2 separate regions of the Homo sapiens genome follow, and region 1 is linked to region 2. Evidence: fine-mapped expression QTL. A gene starts in region 2. The other region holds a variant in brackets. All regions are shown on one strand. Distances are from middle to middle. Region 1 overlaps LOC105376136 (a long non-coding RNA gene). Region 2 holds the start of CKS2 (CDC28 protein kinase regulatory subunit 2).

Evidence for each region.
Region 1: its variant is fine-mapped to the expression of CKS2 in B cells (Fairfax 2012, PIP 0.95).

The regions. Positions count from the first base shown.
Region 1 is chr9:89,283,363-89,292,146 of GRCh38, forward strand. It overlaps LOC105376136 (a long non-coding RNA gene), which reads right to left. Exons shown (of 3, transcript XR_930101.4): 3 at 1-5,255. Among named protein-coding and RNA genes, the nearest start is that of CKS2, 23 kb to the right of the region's middle. The variant G/A (reference allele first, on the strand shown) is at 3,889.
Region 2 is chr9:89,306,233-89,315,778 of GRCh38, forward strand. CKS2 (CDC28 protein kinase regulatory subunit 2) reads left to right here and starts at 4,963. Exons shown (of 3, transcript NM_001827.3): 1 at 4,963-5,119; 2 at 8,938-9,065. The coding sequence starts at 5,061. MIR3153 (microRNA 3153) reads left to right here and starts at 5,993; the gene lies at 5,993-6,074. LOC105376136 (a long non-coding RNA gene) reads right to left here and starts at 4,570. Exons shown (of 3, transcript XR_930101.4): 1 at 3,134-4,570; 2 at 2,626-2,714. RefSeq lists a silencer at 4,269-4,498 and enhancers at 4,509-4,798, 5,469-5,518.

The sequences.
Region 1 (8,784 bases), 23 kb before region 2:
AACACTCACCGCCAAGGTCTGCAGCTTCACTCCTGAAGCCAGCGAGACCACGAGCCCACCGGGAGGAACGAACAACTCCAGACGTGCCGCCTTAAGAGCTGTTAACACTCACCTGGAAGGTCTGCAGCTTCACTCCTGAGCCAGCGAGACCACGAACCCACCAGAAGGAACAAACTCCGAACACATCCGAACATCAGAAGGAACAAACTCCAGACGTGCCACCTTAAGAGCTGTAACACTCACCACGAGGGTCCACAGCTTCATTCTTGAAGTCAGTGAGACCAAGAACCCACCAATTCCGGACACACCAGCAGTTTGGGAGGCCAAGGCAGGTGGACCACTTGACATCAGGAGTTTGAGACCAGCCTGGCCAATATAGCAAAACCCTGTCTCTACTAAAAGTACAAAAATTAGCTGGGTGTTGTGGCAGGCACCTGTAATCTCAGCTACTTGGGAAGCTGAGGCGGGAGAATCACTTGAACCCAGGAGGCAGAGGTTGCAGTGAGCTGAGATTGCGCTGCTGCACTCCAGCCTGGACAAAGAGTGAGACTCCATCACATACATACACACACACACACACACACACACACACACACACACACACAGGGCGTAACTAACTCTCAGACTCCCTCTCCCCAGCTAAAGACATCTAGGCAAATTTTCATCCTGGTAGCACCCATGGGGAACTCCCTTCTCAACCTCCTTTTCCATGGAAAAATATCCATGAGCCCTGAGGATTTGAAATTCAGTTCATACAAAAGCGCCTTCCTCACCTCATCTCGTGGGAAAAAAAACCTGTCTCCCGAGTAAACATTTCATATAAAATAGTACTCAAGTCACTCCTCTCCAAAAACTTCACCTGGCCTCTTGCTTTCACATGGACATTAAGAGGCTAGGCCTCAAGTCTGCCTTTTCCTTGAGCCTGCTTTTCTCTGACGCAGAAGGGGCCACTTGGCAGGTCTGGCAATCCCACGTTCCGAGACTGGAGCTCTACAAGCGGGACTTGGAGCTGCCTGTGGCTCTGTTATTCCTTACTCCTTGGTGATACTCTTCACTTTGGTAATATTTTAGTAGGTATTGTTAGAAAGTAAACCTTCATTGAATTCTCAGAAAGAGTAAACCACTAAAGCATAATGAAGTAAACTGACAGTAACTAATTTATTATGTGTAACTACAGCACAGAATAATGCTACATAAGTTGGAATATAACAGTGGAGTTTAAAATGGATTTGGATTAAAAAGCACTAAGGACAAATAAAATTTAAAAGAGCAAATAAATTTACATATTTGAAATACGTAATTTAAGTATTGTTTTTATAAATAGTTTCTACTTTATCATTTCACTGGTTGCCAGAATCATGTTTTAGACCAGCTAATTTTCAAATATCTCTGAAGACTACAGCTGGGACCTGAAAAGCATGAACAAGTTTAAGTGGAAAACAGCCAACATTTCCTGGAATAGAAGAGATGACCCTAGGCTGAAATCGAAGGCTTCCCACCTGTGTCCACGACACTCAGAAAAGTGATTTCCCATTGCCACTACCTGGGAAAAGGGCATTGCCTTCAAGAGCCACTCCAAGGAGGTTGCCAGTTCTAGAGAAGCTTGAGATACAAGTTCTAGCAATACTCTGCTCTGCTGGAAAATTCTAGTGTTGCAAATCTCAACAAATCAGCATGCTGGCAGAAATTTAGAGTAAAAGGTATCTGGATAGTGAGAATAAATAACATAAAATTATTTTACTATAATCCTCATAAGAGTCCCTCAAAACCATCCTCAGAGCACACTCACTCTTCTCACTTGGTTTTCTGTGGCTATTTAAGATCCCAAGTAGCACCAGAAGGAAAAGTGTAGGTGGGGACAGAGATATCCACTTAAGTAATAGACAAATGAATTTGCCAAAGATCAGACAAAGAAAAATCGTATCCATTAATACAATTAGGAGCTATTCAGTACCTTCTACAAGCCAAGCATTGTGCAGGCCCTGGAGAGACAAAAAGGAACAGGACCTGATCTTGCCCTCAGGATATACACAACCTTATATGTTAAGACTAACATATAAATGATTAACTTCAATACAACAGAAAAAAGTATCAATTATGGTTATTTGGTGCAGGTATTAACCTTGGCCTAACTGGAGCACAAAAGAAACTCACTGGAGCAGTAGTAAGTAACTCATGAAATTGTTGGTCAATCTGAACAATCAAGCCAAGGGGAGAGAGCCACAGAAACCCAAAATTCTCAGGAACGAGAATTCTTATACTGTCACCTAAGGTTGCTGTGATTCTATCTGCCTTCCATCTCTGGGTGTCTCTACTCAAGATTCACTTTCCTGCAAAAAAAACCAAACAGCTGTTCTTATTCTAATTTGCATTATCACCTCCTGTGGTCCAGGAACAAAGACCCCTGGACTGGCAGCCCGAGAATCTCACAGGGTGAAGACTGAAGTTGGGAAAACCCTTGCCTTGCCAAAACACATCTAGAACCTTCTTTCCATACAAATATTCCCAAGAGGTTTCTAACCAAACATGGTTGTGCATTGCTTGTGAGCCTTCAGATTGAGCACCCCCCTGCTCCCCAGTGGAGCACAACCCAACACAACATCTCACAAGTGCATCCTGAGGTGAGATGTGATGCCAAGTTGGGGGCTACAGATTGAATTATCTTGTTGGCAAACTGGGGACTCGGTGATGGCCAGGTGTGATTTATAAATAAATGTCCATGTTTTTGAGTCCAAGAAAGCAGAAGAATCTTCTTATAATTTGGTCATTGCAATGGTTTGAATGTGTTCCCTGCAAGCCTATGTGTTGGAAACTTACTGCCATTGTAATAGTATTAAAAGGTGGCCCTTTTCTTGTTGTTGTTTTGTTTTTTGTTTTTTTTTTGAGACGGAGTCTCGCTCTGTCGCCCAGGCTGGAGTGCAGTGGCGCAATCTCGGCTCACTGCAAGCTCCGCCTCCCAGGTTTACGCCATTCTCCTGCCTCAGCCTCCCAGGTAGCTGGGACTACACGTGCCTGCCACCACGCCTGGCTTTTTTTTTTTTTTTTTTGCTATTTTTAGCAGAGACGGGGTTTCACTGTGTTAGCCAGGATGGTCTCAATCTCCTGACCTCGTGATCTGCCCACCTTGGCCTCCCAAATTGCTGGGATTACAGGCGTGAGCCACCTCGCCCAGCCAAGAGGTAGCCCCTTTATGTGGTGATTGGGCCAAGAGGACTCTGCCCTTGTGAATGAGTTAATACCATTATTGTGGGAGTGGGTTCATTATACAAAGGCCAGTTTGGTCCCCACCCCCAACAATTCTTTGGCCATGTGAAGAAAACTGTTCCTCCCTCTGTAGGATGCAGTGTTCAAGGTGCCATCTTGTAAGCGGAGACCAGGCCCCCATCAGACAGCCTCCAAAACTGTGAGAAATAAATGTCTATTCTTTATGGATTACCCCGTCTCGGGTATTGTATTCCAGCAGCACAAATGGACTAAACAGTCATCCAGTTTACCTGGAATATTTCTGTGATATACACAAACCTATTTGATTTTTGTACTCTATTCCTGGCACAGGGCTCCTAAAACCCTGGGAATTTCCTGAGTGAGGGGAGTTTCTGCTTTTACTCATAACATGCCATCTTCCACCATATCTAGTACTACACCTGAGTTTATGTTACTGCAGTGACTTAGGGTGGTTCTAACTAGCCTCTGGTCACTAGAAAGACTAAAGAGGGTGGGAACTCTTAGCCTCACCCACTGGCCTCCCACGGATGGAAGGGGCCTGGAAATGGGTTATAAAGCCTCCTGAATGGTATGCAATGAGTTTCGGGGTCAGTGAACACACGGAGGTGCCGCGAGGGTGGTATGCCTAGAGAGGGCCTGGAAGTTCTGTGCCACCAACTACTC[G/A]ACATACCCTGCTCTATGCATTGCTTTCATTTGTCTGTCTCTGAGTTGTAGCCTTTATAATAAACTGGGAAATGTTAAGTAAAATGTCTACCTGAGTTTTGTGAGCAGTTTTAGCAAATTACCAAAACTGAGAAAAGAGTCATGGGAATCCCTAAATCTGCAGTCAGCTAGGCAGAAGTGTGGATGGTCTGAGCACCCCATTGTAGCTGGCAACTGAAGTGGGTGGGGGGGCAATCTTGTGAGACTGAATCCTTTACCTGTGGGGCCTGCTGATAGCTGCAGGAATTAGTGACAGAATATAACTGAATTGTTGAACATCGAGTTGGTGTCAGAGAATTGGAGAATTGGTGTTGGAAAATACATCAATATTTTGGTGTCGGGGCAAAAAAATAGCAACCTTACAATCTTCTACAGTAAGGGACTTCTGGTTAGCATTCAAGTTGGGCATAAATATTCTTGGGGTCTGGGCATATTCCAAATGATTTAGTCACATATCTCTGCCCCAGGTCTTCTTGACACAAACTTTGGTTCAATTTTGGCCCAATTACCAAGTTTGGCCTAATTTTGATCCTTCCAATTACCTGATCATTGACAGGACCAGGATAAAGATCTAAAACCAATAGTTTTCCCCTTGCCTTCTACCTTTTCCCCCTTTTCTTTCTATTTTGCTATTTACCTTCTCTATCCCATGACTAGACGAGCCAATAATAAAACGTGATTGTAGACCGAGCGCGGTGGCTCATGCCTGTAATCCTAGCACTTTGGGAGGCTGAGGCAGGCGGATCACGAGGCCAGGTGTTCGAGACCAGCCTGGCCAACATAGTGAAACCCTGTGTCTACTAAAAATACAAAAAATTAGCTGGGCGTGGTGGCAGGTGCCTGTAATCCCAGTTACTCGGGAGGCTGAGGCAGGAGAATTGATTGAACCTGGGAGGTGGAGGTTGCAGTGAGCTGAGATCCCACCATTGCACTCCAGCCCAGGCAACAGTGCGAGACTCCATCTCAAAAAAAAAAAAAAAAAAAAAGCAATTGTAATCTGAGTGATTCTTCACTAGGTATTTGATATCAAAATGGAATCGTGCCGGGCGCAGTGGCTCACGCCTATAATCCCAGCACTTTGGAAGGCCAAGGAGGGCAGCATCACCTGAGGTTGGGAGTTCAACATCAGCCTTACCAACATGGAAAAATCCCATCTCTACTAAAAATACAAAATTAGCTGGGCGTGGTGGCACATACCTGTAATCCCAGCTAGTCGGGAGGCTGAGGCAGGAGAATTGCTTGAACCTGAGAGGCAGAGGTTGCGGTGAGCCGAGATTGCACCATTGCACTCCAGCCTGGGCAAGAAGAGTGAAACTCCATCTCAAAAACTAAACAAAACAAAACAGAACAAAAGAACAGAACGGTAATCAGCATTTATCGTATGCCTGTTGTGTACTGTACTCTGTGAAGCGCTTGATACTCATCACTTCACTTAATTGCTACAACAACTCTGTAAAGTAAAGACAATTATCCCACATGACGACGCTGAAGGTCCGTAAACTTCCAGAATATGTCAAGGGCCACCAAGCCAGTAAGTGCTCATAAGTCAGCACTTGGGTCCAGATCTGTGGACTTCAAAACCCATGCTCTTAACTCTGCCACAGCTGTCCTTGATTGATGAATGGGATTGCTTTCTGGAAGTTCATTTCTAAATTGTTAGTTTGGAACTCAAACTGAATTTTTCCCAGGTATTTTGTTATGAATCAGTTTTTCTACAACTCAGTAAATAGGGACCCTACTATTAGGATGAAAATAATTTCTCAAAGATGCCTATAAATGCATGCCCACATCCCTACAATAGATCCAACTTGAAAAACACAGACTTAAAGTCTTAGTCTATAAAAATGTCTCATAAGTGCAAATATCACCTATTAAGACTAAGAGGCTAGCCAGGCATCATGGCTCACGCCTATAATCCCAGGATTTTGGGAGGCCAAGGCCCTTTTGTTTTGGTAGGGTAGATCACTTTTGTTTGGGTAGATCACTTGAGATCAGGAGTTCGAGACCAGCCTGGCCAACATGGTGAAAACCCGTTTCTACCAAAAATACAAAAAAATTAGTTGGGCATGGTGGCATGCACCTGTAATCCCAGCTATTCAGGAGGCTGAGGCATGAGAATCACTTGAGCCCAGGAGGTGGAGGCTGCAGTGAGCCGAGATCCTGCCATTGCACTCCAGCCTGGGTGACAGAGCGAGACTCTGTCTCAAAAAAAAAATAAATAAATAAAATAAGACTAAGAGACTTTAGGGTTTATAACAGACAAATCTATGTGTATATATGTATATATTATTTTTTCTTTCTTATTTCTATGTATATATTTTGGATTATCATCAACATGAGCATGCAACACTGAAAGAATGCTTTGAGAGCTCTCAAATTCTCAAGAACACATTCATGGACTCTGGGTGTCCAGGGATCCCAGTCTGAGAAACACTGCTAGACATGAGTCTTAATTTGCTAGGATTATCAGTTAGCATTACTCTCAGCTTCAAATAACAGACACAGAATTACAGAGGCTTGGCCAAATGTGTTGAGTTTCCTCATGTGACAGAACACCCAGAAGTGGTCAGCCAAGACCGATGCATCAGCTCCAGCATGCTGTCAAGGCTGCTGTGTTTGACATGCAACTCTCAGAATTGCAAAATTGTTGTTCCACATCTAAACACTGCATCATGATCCAGGCAGAAAAACAGGCAAAGAAAGGCAAAAATGTCTATGCTCAAAAGACTTTTTCATTCTATTCCAGAAGGAAATTCCTCCTATGGAACATCTCATCAGGCCTCTCTTATCCCTCACTGACCAGAGCTCAGACACAAGTCTGTTTTTAACTGCAAGAGAGGCTGGGGAGTTGAGTGGTTTCATTTCCAGCCTCCAAAGTAGATGAAAGCAAGGAAAACAGCAGCCTCACCCAGAGAACCCAGTGAGCCCAGGGGTTCTTGTCCACTTCTATGCCATGCATTCCTCCGGCAGTCTGTTGAAGCCTACGAACCCCTTCTCAGACCAGTATTTTAAATATGTAAAATAAAATGCATATTCAAAACAAAACCAATTGTATGAAAATGCACTTGTATGGCAGCTTGGGCTGCCATAACAAAATACTTTAGACTGGGTGGCTTAAACAACAGAAATTTATTTTCTCATGCTGCTGGAAGCTGGGAATCTAAGATCAAGGTGCTGACAGAGTTAGTTCCTGGTGAGGCCTCTGGCTTGCAGAAGGCCACCTTCATGCTGTGTGTTCACATGGCCTTTCTTTAGTGCTTCTAGTGCAGAGAAGGAAAAGGGGTGGGAAATGAGGAGATCCTTTTCTTAGAAAACCACTAATCCTATTGGATTAAGGTCTCTTATGACCTCATTTAACCTTAATTACCTTTAAAAGCCCTATCTCCAAACACAGTCACATTGGGGTTTAGAACACCAACATATGGATTTGGGAGGATATGATTCAGTCTATGGCAAAAATTATCAAAATATTTAAAAACCAAGGCTGGACACAGTGGCTCACGCCGGTAATCCTAGCACTTTGGGAGGCTGAGGTGGGTGGATTGCCTGAGCTCAGGAGTTCGAGACCAGCCTGGGCAACATGGCAAAACCCCATCTCTACTAAAAATACAAAAAAATTAGCTAGGCGTGGTGGTGTGCACCTGTAATCCCAGCTACTTGGGAGGATGAAGCAGGAAAATCGCTTGAACCCAGGAGGCAGAGGTTGCAGTGAGCCAAGATTGCACCACTGCTCTCCAGCCTGGGTGACAAATGAGACTCCATCTCAAAAGAAAAGAAAAAAAGATTTTTTAAACCATATGTGTGACATAGTATTATATATTCTTCTTGAACAGATTAAATAAGAAGAGCTATCAAAAAGTCTAGTAACTACTATAATTCTGAAGTAGTGAGGAGTGAGAATTATATCACAGGATTTTTGCAAAAGCTGTAATAATATAACTAATACTACTGCATTTTGTTCCCAACATTCACAATTGAAGAAAATGCTAAACTTCAGTTACAGGAAATGTTTTTCCATCCAAAGTTATGGATTCCTTGGATTCTATCCATGAACTCCTTAAGGGATCCTTGGATCACAGGTTAAGGACCCTTGATTTTAGTCCACAAGAATAATGAATTAGAAAACAGTACTCTCTAAGTTCTGCGGAGACAAGGCTATTGAATAAAGAGAAAGTGAAGACAGTTAAAGGCAATTTTTTTCTTAAACGAAGTTTGTTTTCAGCACTGTCCTTCTTCATTTTCTCAGCTGTCCAAAAGTTTAATACTTCTTCTGGGCATAACTTAGGGACCTCTTCCTGCCCACATCCTACTCTGCCTGTCCATTGCCTCCAAGTGTCCCACCATCAAAAATTACCACCTCCTCATTTCCACCGGCAAATCAGAACCTCTTCCCACAGGGCAATATATTTCAGCTGTGGACTATTAGGAAAATAATCTAATTAAATGAAGTCATCCCAAGGGGTCAGCTCCTCAACCTAGAATGTTTGCATTCATCTAAAACTTCACTTTGTCACCCAAATAAATCTGCGATTATTAGGACTTTAAATGAAATGTTTCCCTTTTGAAGTTGGTTGCGTGAGGTTCCATCACATGCTGTCAGCACCTCTGCATACAGCCCAGCAAGCTGTGTGCTGCCTACACTATCCACAGAGACTATAATTTGAATGCTGTCCCAGGTGCTATGTCACACACCAGAGTCAAAGAGGTGTACTGCACATTCTTGTGGAGATTTTCAAACTTGAGAAGTGTGTACTTTTAAATGAATATAAATCTCTCAGATCCCCAGGGTTAACTTCACATTTTTATGCTGGATATTTTTATTATGTTACTTACATACAGAAATAGAATTAATCAGGC
Region 2 (9,546 bases):
AATCTCCCTATCTTAAAATCCTTAATTTAATCACATTTGTAAAGTCTCTTTTGCTGTGTAAGGTAACATTCACAGATACCAAAGATTAGGATATGAGCATTGCTGTGGTTTGAATGTGTCCCCCAAATTTCACGTGTTGGAAACTTAATCCCCAAATTTATATGTTTATGGTATTTGGAGGTGGGGCCTTTGGGAGGTAATTAAGATTAAAGTCATCAGGGTGGGGCTCCCATGACGGGACTGTGGCTTTATAAGAAGAGGAAGAGACACCTGAGCCGGCTGGCCCTTGCCCTCCCTCCATGGGATGCCCTCCACCATGTTATGATGCAGTAGAAGGCCTTCACCAGATGTTGCCCCTCTACCTTTGACTTCCCAGCCTCCAAAATGGTAAGAAATAAATTTCTTTTCTTTATAAATTACCCAGGCTGTGGTAGTCCTTTATACCAACATAAAATTGACTAAGACAGACATCTTTGGGGGCCATTTTTCTACCACATTCATCCTCCTACATTCACTTCCCACAACTTTCCTTTCCATGACTTTTACAATCTAAGCCAAACCTATTCAGCATTTTCTGTGTGTACCACACTTCCTCACACCTTTACAACTACCAATCCTTCCTTTGGAAAGGTGCTTGGCCCTCCTGGCTTTCTACCTGTGGAACTCTAAGAGACAGAACAGAATAGTGGGTAAGAGGCCTAACTCTGGAGTCAGACAGTTTGGGCTCAAATATGAGTCTGCCACTTACTAGGAATTTTTGGTAAATGGTTTTGTTTTGTTTTAACCTAGATCTAAATGCCAGATTGTAACAAATACAAGAAATAGAAAAACCAGGGAAACTGCACCACAAGGAAACAATTACACAGATCCAGAATGTGTAACGTTCCACAGGCAAAAATGACCTGGTTTGATGAACAGATGTTAAAAAAGGTGGCAGGGGTGTGTGTGGGGAGGGTGTCTATGTAGGTAGAGGTTGGGGGGTTGTTTAAAGAAGACTAAAAGAGACAATAACAAAATGTGGTCGGGTGCGGGGGCTCACGCCTGTAATCCCAGCACTTCGGGAGGCTGAGGCAGCCGGATCATCTGAGGCCGTGAGTTCAAGACCAGCCTGACCAATATGGAGAAACCCCATCTCTACTAAAAATACAAAATTAGCTGGGCATGGTGGAGGGCACCTGTAATCCCAGCTACTTGGGAAGCTAAGGCAGGAGAATTGCTTGAACACAGGAGGCAGAGGCTGCAGTGGGCAGATATCGCGCCATTGCACTCCAGCCTGGGCAACAAGAGTGAAACTCCATCTCAAAAAAAAAAAAAAAAAGAGAGACAATAACAAAATGCAAGATGTAGGCCCAAGTTTGAAAGCAGGGTTAAACAAACTATAAAAAGCTTTGGTGAGGCAGTCAGGGAAATGTGAGTCTAAAACAGCTATCAAAGAGTATTAAGGACGTCTAAGCGTAAGTATGATGTGGTTATGCATTTTTTAAAAAATTTTCCTGAGATGCACACCATAAACACAGAGATACACTGAAAAGTTTTATTTAGGAGTGAACTGACATATCTGAGATCTCTTCAGTAATATTCTAGAAAAAAAAAGTTAGAGAGGAACAGATGAAACATGATTGGCAAACGGTAATTGCTGAAGCTAAATGACTGGAACAAGTTGAGTATCCCTTACCCAAAACACTTGGGACCAGAAGTGTTTCAGGGTTTTTTGGAATCTGGAATATGGGCATTTTGTTAACCAGTTCAGTATCTCTAATAGGAAAATCTGAAATCTGAAGTGCTCCAATGAGCATATCCTTTGAGCTCATGTCAGTGTTGTTCAACGTTTTGGACTTTTGGAGCATTTCAGATTTTCAGATTAAAGATGCACAACCTGTACATGGGAGTTGATTCTATTATTCCATGTGTTTGAACTTTTCACAGTGCAGATGGTCCTTGACTTACAATGGTTCAACTTAAAATTTTTTTGACTAGTCAGGATGTAATCCCATTGTAAATTAAGGAGCATCTATACATTTATTTAAAAATATATCTCCCAGGAAGTTTTTTTCCCCCAGGTTCTGCCAGAAAGTAATTTCCTTGTCCATTTTCCTTAACAGTTTATTCACATTTTTGCCATCATAGTAATTATACCTAATTATTTACTCTTATTATACTGTGCCTAAAATTTACTTCTTATTGTGTGCTTATGTGCAAGGAACTCTGCTATGTGCTAGGCACTCCGTGGTGAACAAGACAGACATGGCCTCTACACTAGCTTCACAGAGTTGTTTTTTTTTTTTTTGAGACGGAGTCTCGCTCTGTCGCCCAGGCTGGAGTGCAGTGGCACAGTCTTGGCTCACTAACAGAGAGTATTTTATAGCGCAGATAGGGAGACAACCACCACCTAAGCAAACATGCAATTGCGACAGTGGGAGGGAAGCCCACTGGAGTCGGTGGCAAGGGCATAATGGGGAAATTGAAGAACTTTCTGTAGAGAAGTTGATTAAGGAAGGCCTTTCAGAAGATGAAATGCTTAATCTGAGACCTGAAGGATTCTATCATGTATGAACGAATGTTTGTGTCTGCTCCCAGCCACCAAATCATGCGTGGAAATTCCAGGCCGGGTGTTGTGGCTCATACCTGTAATTCTGTTACAGGAAAGGGGTCCAGTCCAGATCCCAAGGGAGAATTCTTGGATCTCGTGCAAGAAAGAATTCAGGGTGAGTCCACTGTGCAAAATGAAAGTAAGTTTATTAAGAAAGTAAAGGAATAAAAGGATGGCTACTCCATAGACAGAACAGCCGAGGGCTGCTGGTTGCCCATTTTTATAGTTATTTTTTGCTTATATGCTAAACGAGGGGTGTATTATTCATGCCTCCCCTTTTTAGACCATGTAGGGTAACTTCCTGATGTTGCCATGGCATTTCTAAACTGTCATGGCACTGGTGGGAGTGTAACAGTGAGGACCAAAGTCACTCTCTTCGCCATTTTGGTTTTGGTGGGTTTTGGCTGGCTCCTTTGCTGCAACCTGTTTCATCAACAAGGTCTTTATGACCTGTATTTTGTGCTGACCTCCCATTTCATCCTGTGACTTAGAATGCCTTAACTGTCTGGGAATGCAGCCCAGTAGGTTTTAGGCTCATCTTACCCAGCTCCTGTTTAAGATGAAGGTGCTCTGGTTCACTTGCCTCTGACGATCCCAGCACTTTGCGAGGCCAAGGCGGGCAGTTCACTTGAGGTCAGGAGTTCGAGACCAGCCTGGCCAAAATGATGAAAACCCGTTTCTACTAAAAATACAAAAACTAGCTGGGCCTGTAATCCCAGCTGCTCTGGAGGCTGAGGCAGAATGGCTTGAACCTGGGAGGGGGAGGTCGCAGTGAGCCAAGATCACACCACTGCACTCCAGCCTGAGCAGCAGAGTGAGACTGTCTCCAAAAAAAAAAAAGGGCGGGGGGTGGAATTCCAAACACCCTCTTCCCCCAAGAAGTGATTGTATTAGGAAGTTAGGAGGTGGGGCCTTCGGGAGGTAATCAAGATTAGATGGTCATGAGGGTGGGGCCCTCACCCATGGAGATTATAAATGTCCTTAGCCGGCCTGTCTCACTTGTTCAGAAACCGGAAAAGTCCGTGGTCTGCAGTGTGGAAAAGGGCACCCGGACCTCTTACTTCCAGCCTCTAGTCTGGAAACTTTGTCTAAGGTACCCCATCTACATTACTTAGTCACAGCCACCCTGAACCCACTAGCCTGTACTGCGCTGGAGCATTTCGCATAAAATGAAATTAACATAAAAATGACACGTGCTCGTTGTGGAAAAAATACCAAAAAGATCACTTTTAATTCTGTCATCTAAAAATAACCACCAGTTACATTTATAAATTTCTTCCAGTAACTTTTTTATATGAACATGTTTTTAAACTTGGGTCAATATTAAAAGACCAGAAGTTGTTAAACATCATTTTAAATCCCCTTATCCAGGAATTAGCATTGTTATTCTTGGCCGCAGCAGAATATTATTTTATTCCCTCAAGCTTTCCATGGCTTGGGTCTGCCCTGGTTTTGAACATTAGGTTAGGCTACAGAAAGCATTCTGGGTCTCTGGCCCATTTGTTTCTTTCTTTGTGGAGACGGGGTCTGGCTCTGTTGCTCAGGCCTGTCTGGAACTCCTGGGCTCAAGCGACACTCCACCTCGGCCTCCCGAGTGGCTGGGACCACTGGCGCCCGCCGCCACCGCGCCGGCTCCGGGCCTCTCTCTACGCGTGGCTCCGCAGGCTCCATTCTCCACACAGTCGTCTAGGGGGGCGCCAGGAGCCCCGCGACGGGCCAGGCCGGAAGCTCAGCAAGTGCACCAGGCGGCGAAACGGCCGGCTGCGCAGGGCAGCCCCGGACACAGCCACGCCGCGGCCGCCCGGCGCTCCCCCGACCCAGCCGACCACGAAGCCGCCCTCCCCCTCACACCGCAGAACCTTTCTGCCTTTTACTACTTTTCAAAGTGGACCTAGGCTCCTGGCTCGAGCCTGAGGGGATACAAGGGATCACGAGGAGCGCCATCACCGTGCAAGGTCGACAGCTTCCGCTCAAAGCCCTGTGGCCCACGCTTCCGGCCTCGACCGACTACGTCATCACCAAACCCCGTGATACCTCACTCCACCTTCAGGTCCTCCGTCCCAACGGTTCCGTGTCCTGGAACTTTCCACGTTCCTGCGCACGCGCTCTGCGGCCCTTAACGTCCCGACTTCGCCCTCCTCTGGCCACGCCCCTGCCCGTTAAGGGCCCTGCCACCCCCGTGACGTACCTATCTTCCCTCGGGCAACCTCGCAACAGATCTCTGATTGGCTGACCCAGGAAGCGGACTTTGCGAGGCGGCGGCGACGATAGGCTGGCAGCCGGCCGACTTCCGCAGAAGGTGATTGGTCGGCGCTGCTGTCCAATCGGCGGCGGGCTGTCGGATTCAAATCCGGATCGTTGGGACTGCGGTCGTTAGTCTCCGGCGAGTTGTTGCCTGGGCTGGACGTGGTTTTGTCTGCTGCGCCCGCTCTTCGCGCTCTCGTTTCATTTTCTGCAGCGCGCCAGCAGGATGGCCCACAAGCAGATCTACTACTCGGACAAGTACTTCGACGAACACTACGAGTACCGGTGGGCGCCTTTCTTAGACCCCGAGCCGGCTCCCTCAGCCGGGGCCCCCGCGGGCGGGGCGACCCAGGCATAGTAGGGTCGGGGGTGGGGGCCGGGGCCTGGGGGGCGGAGCCCGGGGCCGGAGGGCGAGGGCCGGGGTTTGGGGTCGCGGCCACCTGGCGCCCCGCGCAGTCGGACATGGTTGGGTGCCTGGCCGCGCCGGGCCGGTTGGGCCTTTGTTCGGTGTGCGCGGAGGGTGAGGGAAGAGTGCCCACCGGGCCGCATTTAGTACCTGGGTAGGAACCGGCGCAACTTGGGGGTCATGGGGTCCTCGGCGACGCGGAGTGACCATCCCGTCACTTTTTTCTCGGCCGTGGCCGAAGTAATTAGGCCGTTCAGTAGCTGGTCTCAGTTCCAGTTCTTTGAACCAGTCCAGGAAAACCCACCTGGTGCCGTCCTTTTTCCTTTAGCAACCGTGACACACTTTCCCTGTCGCTGACGGGGTGATGCAGCTTTTACTAGTTTGTGGTTTAGAATGGTCAAATGGTCATTTTCATCTGTTAACACAGAGGAACACTTTTCTTTTTCTTGTTTTTGAAGTGAGTGGTATAAGAATAAGCTTTGGAGGCGACCCCCCGAAAAATGAGCTTGATGGGGATTCGAAAATGTTTACTGGGTATGGTGATTTGGGCCATTATAGGTTAGCCGCAGTCATACAATTGAGGGTATTATTAAAGGAGTTTCATTTTAAGGCCGATTAAGAACTTGAGTGGACTTTGGGCATCATTTTCTGCTAGTATACACTGGCCAAATTTTGGGCTTTGAGAAACTTTTGCGTTTGAGTCCTGAAGCACCGTACTAGAACATGGTGGCTGTAATCGATCAGTAAAATTAGACAAATTTTAAATGTCCCTGTCCCCTTCCCCCCAATTAAAGTAGATTGGGGGAAAGCGAGTAGGGACATTTAAAATTTGTTGTCCTTACTGTATGCGGGACACTTCATTTAGGGCGTGGCTTCAGAAAACAGTCAACCCCTTTTTCTTAACTAGGTAGCGACTAGAACGCTGCGTTCTGGGATACTACCAAGATTTAGGGGAGATAAAGCCCATGCCATCGTTGGCCAAATTGTGACCTTGTTTTCTGTCTGCTGCCTTTGTAGGTTAGATTTCTCCGAATGCTATTTAAGGAAGAAAGAACAAAACAGTGGGTGGTTTCTCTTTTTCTCCCCCTCCCTAGTAGCATGGAAGTCTGTTTTCACATGAGGACTACTGAATATTTCTATGGGTAGTAGTAATTGCACCCTTTTGTATTCCTAGCTAGAAAAATAGCATGTTTTTCTGGCTGTAGGTAAATTTCAAGTAGATTGTGTTAACCTTATAGTAATAATAAACTATACTCGTGTAATATGCTGGCAGTGTTCAATTATGCGATGTTAATCAAGAGCCCTATTGAGGATATCCAATAATGAACACAATGTAAACCGTAATAATCTTACTAAAACCTAGAAAATTATTCTGAAACACATCTGGTGCCAAGTGTTTAGGATAAGGATTTAAGGGTCGGTACAAGTTTCTTTTAGGGTATAATATTGAAAATAAATGAAGCTATTTCTCAGACTTCTTTCTGATGGCAGTAGGTCGATTTTTTAGTTTTAATATACTCAAATGATTTGTGTGTGGTAATGTATAGAAGAAAGTTTACATATCTGAAGTGATGTATTTTAATCCAATAAAAATTAGAGCTGGTATTAATTGGCCAAGCCAGTAACCTTTATGAAACAGGATAGTAATTTCCACACATAATTTTAAAGGGGAAACTAGTAATAATATAGCACTAAGGCATGAGTCTAGGGTGGTTTGTATTAATATGTAATGGTGCAGCATGCAATGTAAATTTCAAAGGCTAGTATTTATTTTTCCCAGTGTGCAGTTATCTCTATCTTTCTTTGATTTTTCTTAATTACAAACTTAATTTCCTAGTCCTTTTACGTGAGGGTCTTAATGTTTCTAAGGGCATAACAGTGGGTGCCCCCACCCCCACATCATGGAAGTCTGTTTTCACAAGAGAAAAACTGTTAATTTTTCTGGGCAGCCTTACAAATTAGTAATACTTGCACTATTTTGCATTTCAACTGAAATAAACGTTAGATTTTGGAAATAATTTTCCTTACATGTAGTTAGTTTGAAATCTCTGTGTGGCAAAATACAGGTAGAATCCTCATATGGGGTTGATGCTACTTAAACATTTTTCCTTTATAAAGAAACCCTGATGGAGGAGAGCCTGTTTCCGTGTTTATGGAGAAGGGTGGTAACTTCTATCTAAATAACTTGTTGGTAGATTTATGTACTCTGTAAGTTTGATAGAAAAGGTACAAAAGCACTACATTTCTCTTTGAGAATAATCAACAAGATAGAACGTAGAAATAAGATAACAGATTATTTGAAGTTAGATGTTAAAGCAGCATTTCAAGAATGTGGGTGATAACTGGTAAGAATTACAAAGAATCACTATATAGTTCACTGGAATTGATGAAAACTCTACAAATTATGGTAGTAAGCTATGACTTGGTGGCCTTAAGGCAATCTAACAACACAGTAGAATTTTTCTGAGGCTCACTTTGCCCTGCAAATAAATTGGTACTTAACCACAGACTAAAATTTAAGTTGATGACAGCTGGGTGCTTATAGCGGGTTAGGGATTCAGTTTACTGTGTCTCAGAAAGTGACCAGATTGCACCTCATTCATCCCCAGCCAGCTGACTCACAGACAGATATCTTATACTGGTTAAAAATTTGGGTTGGTGGTTATGGATGGTTCAGTATAAAACTGTTGCTACTACTGCAGGTGGTAAACATGGAGCTGAGAATTGTGACTTTCATAAAGTCCTTTTTATGGTAATTGAGTAAAAATTCTTACTCAATTTGGGGAAAGAGATTTGTTAGGCAAATCTTTGATAGAATGCTTTGGGATACTGTTAATGATACAGATTTGTTTTTGAGAATCTCGTAAGGCTACAATTATACATATTGATGGTTTAACTTTGAAGGTTATTCCATGCTTGCCTAAGAAACTGAACAATGTAAGTTTTGGATATAGGTCAGTAAATTAACTGGAAAACGGTGAGGTTGCACACAATGTGTATGTACAGTTAGTGGTTTTCTGTTTTTAATTTTGAACAAAGTACTTGAAGTATAAAGCAACTTCTGGAGCATACAAGGACTAGTAGCTACTACAAAGCTAGTGTTGAGTAAGAGGAAACCCAAATTAACTGTAACTTAGATTTTTTCGTTACATAAAAGTCTAATAATCTGGGGCAGGGATAACAGCTTTACAGTCAAGGACTAGGCTGGGTCCTTACCTCTTGTTGCTTTACCGTTCTCAATTTACAGTTGCTTCTATGGTCCTAGATTCCTGCTCTGGCTCCCTGATCATATTAATGTGCATTCAACAAGAAGGAGAAAAAGAGTTCAGCATGTTCTTTCCCTTTGAGAACACTTTTCATAATAAGTTACACATTTTCTTATATCTTGTTGGCTTATGATTTGGAGGCTGGTAACCATATGTTCAACTTATATTTTGGGGTTCTCTTCCTGAAGAAGATTAAGGCAACTGGTAAGCATTCTGTGATAAGAGAAAAAGATTAATCCTATGGAAAATGCTTTCTGCTTTTGGATTGTGCACTCTTAGCTCCCTAATTTGAACATAGGCCATCATATCAGAATTAAAGGTAGTAGATTGCAGTTCTCAATATTAAAGCAACAGAGTTCCTTAAGGTACATGTATAAAGCGACAGTTGTAGAAAAGGCACTGGACTAACACTTGGCTGTATCTTGTAACAGGCATGTTATGTTACCCAGAGAACTTTCCAAACAAGTACCTAAAACTCATCTGATGTCTGAAGAGGAGTGGAGGAGACTTGGTGTCCAACAGAGTCTAGGCTGGGTTCATTACATGATTCATGAGCCAGGTAAGCTATGCTATGTTATAGTAAAGCAGTAATTGTTGAAATATTGGTGGTTATGGTTGTCAAAATTTTAAAAATATCATTGACATCAAATGATATCTGAAAGTAACTGTTCTGATAAGTTTTTTTTTTTAATGACTAATTTCTTGACTCTGGAGAGAGTTCCAATTTTATGGTAAATAAAATACCACAGCAGTGAAAGTAACACATTATTCTACTTGGAAAATAATGTAAGAAGTAAAAAAAAAAAAAAAAAAATGTATTTTAAAATCTGTATCATTGTTAACAGTATCCCAAAGCATTTTATCATAAGTATATCCTAAGACAAGTGTTCTTATCTATGTGTGGAAATTGATTTAATTTAAAGTGATTCTTCAGCCCTCTGAAAGGATATATACCACATGAAGTTTAAATGAGGTAATAGCATATGAACTCAACTGTGCTTATGGGTACCTTATGCTATTATGTGGTATTAACCAAAAGT